2 separate regions of the Homo sapiens genome follow, and region 1 is linked to region 2. Evidence: fine-mapped expression QTL. A gene starts in region 2. The other region holds a variant in brackets. All regions are shown on one strand. Distances are from middle to middle. Region 1 overlaps NGLY1 (N-glycanase 1). Region 2 holds the start of OXSM (3-oxoacyl-ACP synthase, mitochondrial).

Region 1 (5,390 bases), 57 kb after region 2:
TTTTTCCAAAAGTAAAATATATTTTTTTCTTTTATGACAGCTTCATGAATGTATAATTAACATACAATAACCTGCATATATTTAAATTGTACAGTTTGATAAGTTTTATTTGTATACACTGAAATCATCACTGCAAATCAGTATTCATTGTATGGATGTGCCATAGTTTACCATTTCACCTGTTGATGGCTATTTGGGTAGTTCCCAGTTTTTTTCACAATTTCAAATTAAGCTGCCATGAACACTCAGGCACACAAGTCTTTATATGGGCATATGCTGCCTTTTCTCTTTGCTTAATGCCTAGGAGTAGAATGGCTGCATTATATGGTAGATATACATACAACTTTTTAAGAAACCACTAAACTATTTTCCAACGTGGTTGTGCCATTTTACATTTTCGCAAGCAGTATGTAAGTTTCCAGTTTCTCCATGTCCTTGCTAACATTTAGTATGATCTGACTTTTTAATTTTATCCCCTTTAATAGGTGTGTAGTGGCATTTCATTATGGTTTTTATTTGTACTTCCCTAATGACAAATAATACTGAGCATCTTTTTATGTGTTTGCTTACCATCCATATGTCCCCTTTGCTTATTTTTTTTAATTGGGTATTGTGTTTTCTTACTGTTTGGTTTTGAGAGTTCTTTATATATTCTTATATAAGTCCATTATCAGATATGTGCTTTGCAAAGATTTTTCTCCCTATCTGTAGTTTGTCTTTTTATGCTCTTAATGATTTTTGAAGAGAAGAAACTGGCGTTCAGTTTACCAATTGGTTGTTTTATGGATTGTGCTTTTTGATGTTATATTTAAGAAATTTTGCCTAGCCCTTGGTCACAATGATTTTCTCCTATGTTTTGTTTTAGAAGTTTTTTTTGGTTTTATGCTTATGTCTGCAATCCATTTTGAGTTAATTTTTTTATATGATCCAAGGTGTATGAAGTTTTTTTTTACATATGGATAATGAATTGTTCTAGCACCATTTATTGAAAAGATTATTTTTTCTCCATTGAATTGTCTTTCCACTTGTATCAAAAATCAGTTCTGTAATATAAATCTAATACAATAAAAATGGATAAAATTTTTATTTGTTGAATTTTGTGGAATCAGCTTTGCAGATAAATTTTAAAAAGGTAATGTTTTGAAATTTTCACTTTTTTATCATAGCGTTTCTGGTTAAACTATCAACTGTTTAGGAATGAATAAGTGACGTATTCTCTTCCGTTTATTTTATAGGCTTTTACGTTTTATTTTATTTTATTTTAATTTTTCGAGACAGTCTCACCCTCTTGCCCAGGCTGGAGTGCAGTTGCATGATCCCAGCTCACTGCAACCTCTGCCTCCCAAGTTCAAGCGATTCTCCTGCCTCAGCCTCCTGAGTAACTGGGATTACAAGCACATGCCACCACACCTGGCTAATTTTTTTTGTTTGTTTTTTTTCAGTAGAGACGGGGTTTCACCATGTTGGCCAGGCTGGTCTCCAACTCCTGACCTCAGGTGATCTGCTCACCTCAGCCTCCCAAAGTGCTGAGATTACAGGCATGAGCCACTGCACCAGGCCCCATGACTTTTAAATTTTAAACAAAGGATAGTATTCTAAAAATTGCATTTAAGGCTGGGCGTGGTGGCTCATGCTTATAATCCCAGCACTTTGGGAGGCCAAGGTGGGTGGATCACCTGAGGTCAGGAGTTCGAGACCAGCCTAGCCAACATGGTGAAACCCCATCTCTACTTAAAACAATACAAAAATCAGCCAGGCGTGATGGTGCATGCCTATAGTCCCAGCTACTCAGGAGGCTGAGATACGAGAATCTCTTGACCCTGGGAAGTGAGACTGCAGTGAGCTGAGATCACGCCACTGCACTCTAGCCTGGACAACAGAGCGAGACTTCGTCTCCAAAAAAATGCATTTAAAAATTACATACATTCTAGGTATTTAGTAAGTAAAGGTTGATGGTTGTAATCTTGTTAAGTATTTGTATTCTGTTATTTGTTTCAGGTAGTTGATGTCACTTGGCGATATTCCTGCAAACATGAAGAGGTGATTGCCAGAAGAACTAAGGTTAAAGAAGCATTACTTCGAGACACTATTAATGGGCTTAATAAGCAGGTATGGTGTGGCTATCTTTTTTGAAAGAACAGTTGACATTTTTTATGTAATCGAGAATAGCCGTTTATTAGCCTATTGAAATTCTTAAAGTAGTAGCATTGTTTTATAAACAAGAATATTTTAATATTCTTTTTGAATATTAAAGAATAAAAATATTCTTTTTGTTCATTGAAAATTTTGCGGACTCATTTTAAATATTATGAGTTATTTTGGATTAAACTGTCTCATTTCAAAGTTCTTTGAAACAAAATTTCAGTATTGGTAGTACCTGACAAAAAATGTGTTGTCTTATTTATCAGTGTAACTGTGCCTTGGATATGACACAGACTCATATTTATGTATTATGTATGTACATACACACACACACACACACACACACACACACACACACACACACACACACACGTCCATGTGAGGAAATTTCTGAAGCAAGGCACAGGAAGTTATTAACAATGACTACTTCTGAGAGGAGGAACTGGAGTTCCAAGATGAAAGGTTCAATTTTTGTTTTATACCCCTTTGATAGTATTGAAATTTTTAACTCTATACATGTGGGTTTTTTTCATAAATTAAAAAATAAGCAGTGAATTTTGCTGTAGCAGGCAGTTAGAACAGGGCAGAGCACATTAATCCAATCAGTGATAATGATTCCAGGTGAGGTTTCAGTCTATTTTGAATCTGCACTTACTCCTGATGTGTAGCCCTTCGGAGATCTCTACCTGAAAACCTGGATTATTTGCTAGATCCCCTTGCATTAGAACACTCTGACCCTCAGTTTATTTTTACCCCAGCACTGTGATTCTGCTAAAAATTCTGCTTTGATTTCCAGCACTT[T/G]AGTCACTATTTTGTCCTTGGCTTCTCAGCCTCTTCTCATGCCACTTAATAATTGACAAATGACTGGAAGGGAAAAGAGGTGCAGTATGTGCCCTTCACCTCAATTCTTTTCTTCTCTTGGAATCTTGACTTCTCAAGTTCTGGCTGCCTTTACAGCTTTCTGTTGCACTCAAACAGGTGTTTATATGTGAGTGTTCTGTTTGTGTGTTTCCACTAGCTTTTCTAGCTTTTCTCAGTAAGACATTCTGACACAAGCCAGTCTATCATATCCAGAAACAGAAGTTGCTACCTTCATTATAAATAAATCTAGGACAGTAGAGCTCATGGAGAGTTGGAAATAGGTGTTAAATGATTTCCCAACATAAAATTTATAAAATTATTTAAGTTTTCCACAGTGTCCTTTTTATTTTCTGAATAATATATGTTTGAAAATAAAATTCAGTACTTGTTTCAAGACCTCTTAAAATGCAAGTGTTTTAAGTATATTCTTGCTTAGAGATGGACCTATACATTCCCCTAATCTTAACAACTTTTTTAAAAAACATGAATTACAGAGGCAACTGTTTTTGTCAGAAAACAGAAGGAAAGAACTTCTCCAGAGGATAATTGTGGAGCTTGTTGAATTTATATCTCCCAAAACCCCTAAACCTGGAGAACTTGGGGGAAGAATATCTGGGTCAGTGGCTTGGAGAGTAGCCCGAGGTGAAATGGGTCTACAGGTATTTAATTCATTCTAGCATGATGATCCTTTTACTTTCCTGCTTCATATACTATGCTCTTCCTATACTATCCTCCAACTGCATTGACTATGACCTTTCAGTTAACTTGAGAGTAATTATTTTAAAATGCAAACATTTGAAGAGAACCAGTAATTGATTTACATAGCATTATCGTGTAAGAGTTAGCAAAGCATTTTTAAAATGGGACTTAAAATTTTTTTTACCTTATGTAAATTTTTAGTGCAGTGTAACTTTTACTGAAGAATATACAGGAAAATGCACAAATTATAAATGTACAGCTTAATGAATGTTTACAAATTTAACACCCATGTAATCGCCAACCAGAATAAGAAATAGATCACTGGAACCGTAGAAACAAGCGTGAGTTTCTTTCCCCACTGCCTTACACCCTCGAAAGTAATCATTATTCTGGCTTCTAACATCATATATTAGTTTTGCCTGTTATTGTGCTTTATAAAATGGAATCATATAGCATGTACTGTTTTGTATATAGCTTGTTTTGTGTAACTTTGTGTCAGTGAGATACATGTTGCAACGTGTATGGTATGTTCTCATTGCTGTATAATTTATTGTATGAATGTAATTTTTCACTGTTGATGGCTATTTGGGTTATTTCTAGTTTTGGCTGATATAAATGGTGCTGCTCTGAACATTTATATTCACGTTTTCAGTGAATATGTTTAGGCATTTTGTTGGATGTATACCTAGGAGTGGAATTGCTAGGTAATAGAGTATGAGTATATTCAGCTTTAGTACATATTGCCAAACAGTTTTTCAAAATGGTTATGCCAGCTTATACTCTCACCAGCAGTATATGAAGTTTTTCGACATCTTTGTGTACACTTGGTATTGTCTATCTTTTCATTTTAGCAGTTCTGGTGGCGTATAGTAGTATCGTGATTTTAATTTGCATTTTGGTGATGACTAATTATGGTGAATGCCTGTTCTTTAAACTTTTGGATATCCTCATTCTCTTTTGTGAAGTGCTTATTTAGGTCTTTTAAAATGAGATTCTAATGCATTTAAAAGAATGCTGTTTTACGTTTTTCCTCTCCAGATGAAAACTTTATGGAGTGGAGAAAATACAGAATTTGGGGAATTCAGCTGATGAAAGTGTTTATTTCTTGGTATATGCTTGCATATATCTGATATTGGCTAGAAATTGTTGGTGGCATGATTACTGTTATATTAAAATTTATTTTAAGATACCACATGATTAATCTTCCAAAATTAAATAACAATGGAAATATAATTTCCATAGGTAGGTCCTAAAGTTAAGGGACTAGGTAAAAATCAGTGTGCTAGGCTTTGTAACAGGCATTAGGGCAGTATAATAGACTGTCCTTTGCCCTTAGGGAGCTAAAGTTGAGTCACTGGAGAGCATTTAATAAAATGTTTAGGAAATATGCAATGAAAAATGCTTGAAAGAAAAATAACTCATCACAATATCAGTATCAAGCAGTTCCAAACAAATTAAAGTTGTATTTATCTACTTTTTCTAAATTTGCCATTGTTACAGTTCATTTCTCTAGTAACAGAATATGTTTTAAAGGAGTGAATTATCACTAATAAATTTTATGTTTGCTTTTTAATTTATCCCATCGTCTGTAGCGGGCAGTTAAAAGTGTTGGTTCAGCCATAGGATTACAAGATCCAAATTCAACAAATAATTCAAATCACTGCCAATGCAGTGTGTTACAAGTATAA
Region 2 (5,390 bases):
CAGCTCAGAGTATAATTTGAAGTATGCTGAAAGGTTTCCTGTGAACATAACCATTTCTTCATCTATTTTGTTACTATGCTTGACATTTTTACCACCAGCAACTACTCACTAAAATTCAAAAGTAGGCCAGGCATGGTAGCTCACACCTGTAATCCCAGCACTTTGGGAGGCCAAGGCAGGAGGACTGCTTGAGGCCAGGAGTTTGAGACCAGCTCTTGCTCTGGCAACATAGCAAGACCCCAACTCTACTAAAAAAAAAAAAAAGAAAGAAAAAAGAAAAACAAACAAACAAAAACAAATAAAATAAAATTCAAATGTATAATTTAGGGGTAGGTAAACTATGGCCCTGGCTAGATGCCTATTTTTGTAAATAGTTTCATTGGAACACATTCATGCCCACACATTTACATACTGTCTACGGCTGCTTTCACATGACAATGGCAGAGTTGATTAGTTGCAACAGACTCCATGGCCCACAAAGCCAAAAATATTTACTATATTTTTCCCATTACAGAAAAGGTTGCTAACTCTGGCTAATTTAACTGAGTAAAACATAATATGATTTAAGAAAGCTAAACTATTAGCTATCTATTAACACATTATCAGGGACTTTTTATTTTTATTTTTTTGCATTTTAAATGCACTAATCTATAACAGTTAACTTAAATGTAGTCCTTAAACCAGCAGTATCACCATCACCTGTTAGAACTACAGAATCTCTCAGCCTGGGAAATAAAGTGAAACCCCATCTCTACAAACAAATTCAAAAAAAAGAAAACTGGTCTCAGTGGCGCATTCCTGTAGTCCCAGCTACTCAGGAAGCTGAGGTGAGAGGATTGCTTGAGCCCAGGAGTTAGAGACTGCAGTGAGATAAGACCAGCATGGGCAATACAGAGAGACCCTGTCTCTAAAAAAACAAAACAAAACAGAATCTCAAGCACCACCCTAGACCTACAGAATCAGAATTAGCATTTTAAATAAGATCCCTAGGTGATTATAGTTTGAGAAGTGCTGATTTGAAAAGAACAGAATCCTGTTGAAATGGAGCAAAACCAGACACATCTAGAAGGGTTGACTTTACTTTCCAAGTCTGATGAAGGGTCAAAGAGGAGGACTTTGTGAGGGAGCACACTGATGCTTAAGCACAAATGCAGGCGTGAAAAGTTGGCAAAGACACACATGGTCTTTTCCACAACTCCATTGGTTTTTAACTCAAATGCAATTTTTGTAAGTATGTTCAAATGCTTTGAAATACTTCAAATGTCTTAAGCAAAGAACTAAACAATCTTGTTTAGTCTAAAAAAGAAAAACAACAGAGATACTGTACACCAAGGCCAGACACTACAACTTCCCTAATTTGGGATTCCCAATAAAGTGTCTTATTTGAAGAAATATTTCGAAGGAAATAACCCATCTTTACCTTAAGGCACCTTCTCCTTCAGGATCAGGGGCAGTTATGTGACCAGCATCACCTGAGAGTCCATAGCCCAAAACTTCTGCATAGATCCGGGCTCTTCTTTGAACAGCATGTTCATATTCTTCCAGCACCAGCACAGCTGCACCTTCTCCCATTACAAAACCATCTCTCTTTGGATGAAATGGTCGACATGCCAACTTGGGATCTGAGTTTGTGCTCAGAGCCCGGGCTCTGGAAAACCCAGCAAGAGATAAAGGGCTAATACAAGAATCTGTACCTCCAGCCACCATCACATCAGCATCACCATGGGCTATAAATCTAAATGAGTCTCCCACAGCATGAGCTCCTGTGGTACAGGCTGTGGATACTGCATGATTTGGGCCCTTGAGTTTATATCGAATGCTGACCTGGCCTGCTGCCATATTGACCAGAATCTTAGGGACAAAAAATGGGCTAACTTTATTGTAACCTTTTGTCTGAAAATTCAAAGCAGTTTCAGAAACAACTTCAAGAGGAATCATTCCCATGCCAATTGCAACACCAGTAGCCACTTGATCAGCTTCTGACTGAGGATGCCAGCCAGAATCCTTCATGGCTAATTCTGCAGCCCCAATGGCCATGATGGTGGGAGAAGACATGGACTTGATATCTGATTTGGACACAAAGTTTTGTTCATTGAACTGACCTTCATCACTACCTCTTGGCACATAAGCAGCAACACTGCAAGGGATACTCTTATACTCTTCACCAACCAGTGAAACAATTCCACTCTCTCCTCCGATAAGACGATCCCAAACCAGGTGAGTTCCAACACCAAGAGGAGTCACTAAGCCAATGCCTGTAATGACAACTCGCCTATGCAATCTGGATATTGGCACAGTTCCGAAAAACTTCCTTTTACTTCTTAACTGTTGGCATAATCTTGAACATAGAAGACGAGTGCTTGTAATTTTCAGGAAATTTTGCAGGCAGTTGGACATGATTAAGATTCAGATGATCAGAAACACATTCCTGTAAAAGACCACAACACACCTAGGAGGTATTCTTTTAAATAGCTTAAGGGCCTAAGGAAAAACATCCAAGGTGTTCCTTTGGGTGCTTGATATGAGCTGCTAATGAACACAGGGAAAATGTTACATACTTTCAATTTATACCTTAACATCAAACTATCTGTTTAAACTTACCTTCTTTTTTAGACCTTAAGTGCCGTCAGACATTTGAAGACAAATAAATGAATTGATGATTCATTCGAGTCACCAAAACAGTAATTCAATGAAAAATATAAAGGCACCTCCAGCCTGATTTGAGCTGCAGGAAGCATCCTTTGTCAGGATTACTGATAACTTCTTCTAAATAGCATTTCTGGTGTCAGTGGCACAGAAAACACATTTCAGGGCATATTCTTTTAAGTAAGTAAGTGGGCTTTATCAATCTTCAGTACTTAAGGATAACCAGCCTTTTCAAAACGCTACCCAGGGCCAAGAGCCCTAGACTGAGCGTCTGGATACATGGGTTGGCAATACACTCTGTGACCAAGCTTGCGATGGGGGAAGGGGACAAGTCTTTCCACTCCTCTAAACTTCTCCAATTGAATCATTGGTGGAAGGAGGGGTTACGACTAGTGGATCACTTCAAGGGTACTACGAAGGCCAGGGGCGGGAGTAAAAGAGTGTAGCCATTCCCTGTATCGCCTCTCAGGCACCACCACACATGTACACAGCCCGAAGAAGCATGGCGAGAGAAAAAGAAATCAGGCCCCAGGTCCTCGGACTCCCCTCTCGAAATTCAACCCCGACTTGATTTGAATGTAAAGGAGGAAAGGAGGGGCGAAGGAGGAGGGTAGCCAGCGATACCTGTAACGGGGCTACCCCGGACACTTCTCCACAGTCGGGGGCGATGACGCTCTCGAGCGCACGCGCACACGCACGTACGCTCATGCGCGCTCGCACGTACGCTCATGCGCTTTCCCACGCACGCGTCCCGTTCGACTCTCTTTCCGCCGGTTGACTTTAAGCCGCGTCACCTTGGCTGAGGTCAGACCGTGGGAGGCGGCTGGGTAGCTGTTTGCGTGAGCAGAGACGCCCCTCTCGGAACCTCAGTGACTCGCCGATAATCGAGGACCTGCCAATAACGCGATGAGGTAGCATTTTCACCCATCAAAAAGGCATTTTTCTTTGGCAGTGATAATGCCCAAATATTCCCTTTTGTCGGAGAAGGGACACCATCGTATTCTACTGGAATTGTAAGAAAGAATTAAGGAAATTCTCTGCAGTTTCAAAGTTATTGCTATAGCTCGCAACGTTATTAGTAATTGTGAGTAAAGTGGAATTAACCAAAATGGCCAACATCAGGAAATTTGTTGTGTATCTTGTGGTACATCCAAATGCCATGCAGCCGTTTAAAATAATTCTGCAGGTGAATATTTATTAATGAGATGTTGCGACTATTTGTTAGGAGACATAGTTACAAAACAGTATATATCCGTTTTTTCAAAAATAATTCTTTAAAGGTCTGCAAGATGTATACTGATTGTGATCTTTCCCTCCTTATTTTTGCTTAGCTTTATTTAATAAAGCTTTTCTACAATAAACAAATGTTTTTGTAATAAAGTTTTTACTTTTTAAAAGTTGTCACCAGGCTGTTCTGCCTATGGAGTAGTCATTCTTTGTTCCTTTACTTTCCTAATAAACTTCCTTTCACTTAAAAAAAAATTATCACCAGATTTGAGACAGTGCTCAAAAATTGTCTCCATTGTCACAATGGAGACATTTGTTTCTAAGTGTGAAAAATTCATTAACTGTTTGCTTAGAGCTGACTGCAAACCGATAAAGGGAAAATATAACATGAAAATGTAAAAAAGCAAGAAGTCGACAAGATGGTATTCATCGAACATCTGTTTTTCACATGCTATCCCAGGCGTGAGTTTTGTCCTTGCTCTTCTTTAGAAAAATGGTTGAGCATAGAATCTTCATCTGGACCTTCTAGTCATATTTATGGTTTTTTCTGGGCAATGCCTCTTGAAGCCATTGTTTCCAAGTAGAGTGCTCTGCATTCTTTCCTACCCCTACAGAAGAATGTGAGTCAAGCTTAGCTTTCCAGGTTGGTCCTGGATTTAAATGAGTTTGGAAATCTATTTTGTTTAAAATAATTCAGCAAAGCTCAGTTTGACCTTCGTCCCAGGCCTAACCAGTCACCTCTAGTTGATCCTCATTCAGTGACAAAGTAGAGTTTCTTGAAGAATTAAAACAAACACATGTGGTTATAAAGTAACACTTGATGAGTAAGTACCTAAACTTGATCTCTTTTCATTGCTGTCTTTAAAATAATAGTGTGAAAATACCTACAATATTTTCTCTGAAGCTGAACTCATAAGAAACATACAGTTTTAATGTGCTATTTCTTTTGTAATATCACAAAATCGTCTTGGCTAAGAGGTGACAAAATCTTTCAGAAAAATAAAAAGACCATCATTTTTGTATCTACCTCTTATCACCTTTTCTTTGATCTGGAAAAGGGTGGGAAATTTTATGATATTTAATGGCTTTACATATTTGGTACCATATTTCCTGCTACAATTCCATCGTGTCTTCTTGCACCAAAATCTTCAAATGGGCTCTGCTTATCCTACCCTCCTATTAAGACTTCCTAGGTTTGCCTTAAATTCTTTGTAATCTGATTCAAAACTATCTTTCCAATTATGGCTCCCATTCTCTATTAAATGAGCTTGCCACCCAGCAAACTGATTTTCTCACTATACATGTCTTGATTGACCCTAACTTTTCTCATCTCTGTGCTTTTGCTATTTTCAACAACCACTCATTTTCTTCCTATCAATGCTTGAAGTTTGAATGCAAAAATGAGTAGAGGTATGGCTCTTGCTTTCAAGAAGTTTATGGTCTAGTAAAGGGAGACACCCATAGAAACAAGTAAGTGCAAACTGTTGAAACAGGTGCTATAGTGGAATTATTATAAC

The links. PIP is the estimated chance that this variant, and not a neighbour inherited with it, causes the effect.
Region 1: its variant is the best candidate, but not a certain one, in a credible set for the expression of OXSM in blood mononuclear cells (TOPMed, PIP 0.72).

The regions. Positions count from the first base shown.
Region 1 is chr3:25,730,591-25,735,980 of GRCh38, reverse strand. NGLY1 (N-glycanase 1) reads left to right here. Exons shown (of 12, transcript NM_018297.4): 8 at 1,999-2,109; 9 at 3,498-3,662. Among named protein-coding and RNA genes, the nearest start is that of NGLY1, 50 kb to the left of the region's middle. The variant T/G (reference allele first, on the strand shown) is at 2,944.
Region 2 is chr3:25,788,028-25,793,417 of GRCh38, reverse strand. It overlaps OXSM (3-oxoacyl-ACP synthase, mitochondrial), which reads right to left and starts at 3,328. Exons shown (of 3, transcript NM_017897.3): 1 at 3,271-3,328; 2 at 1,421-2,428. The coding sequence starts at 2,397. It also overlaps a transcript of NGLY1 not described here. RefSeq lists enhancers at 3,031-3,100, 3,111-3,180, 3,320-3,849 and a silencer at 3,283-3,502.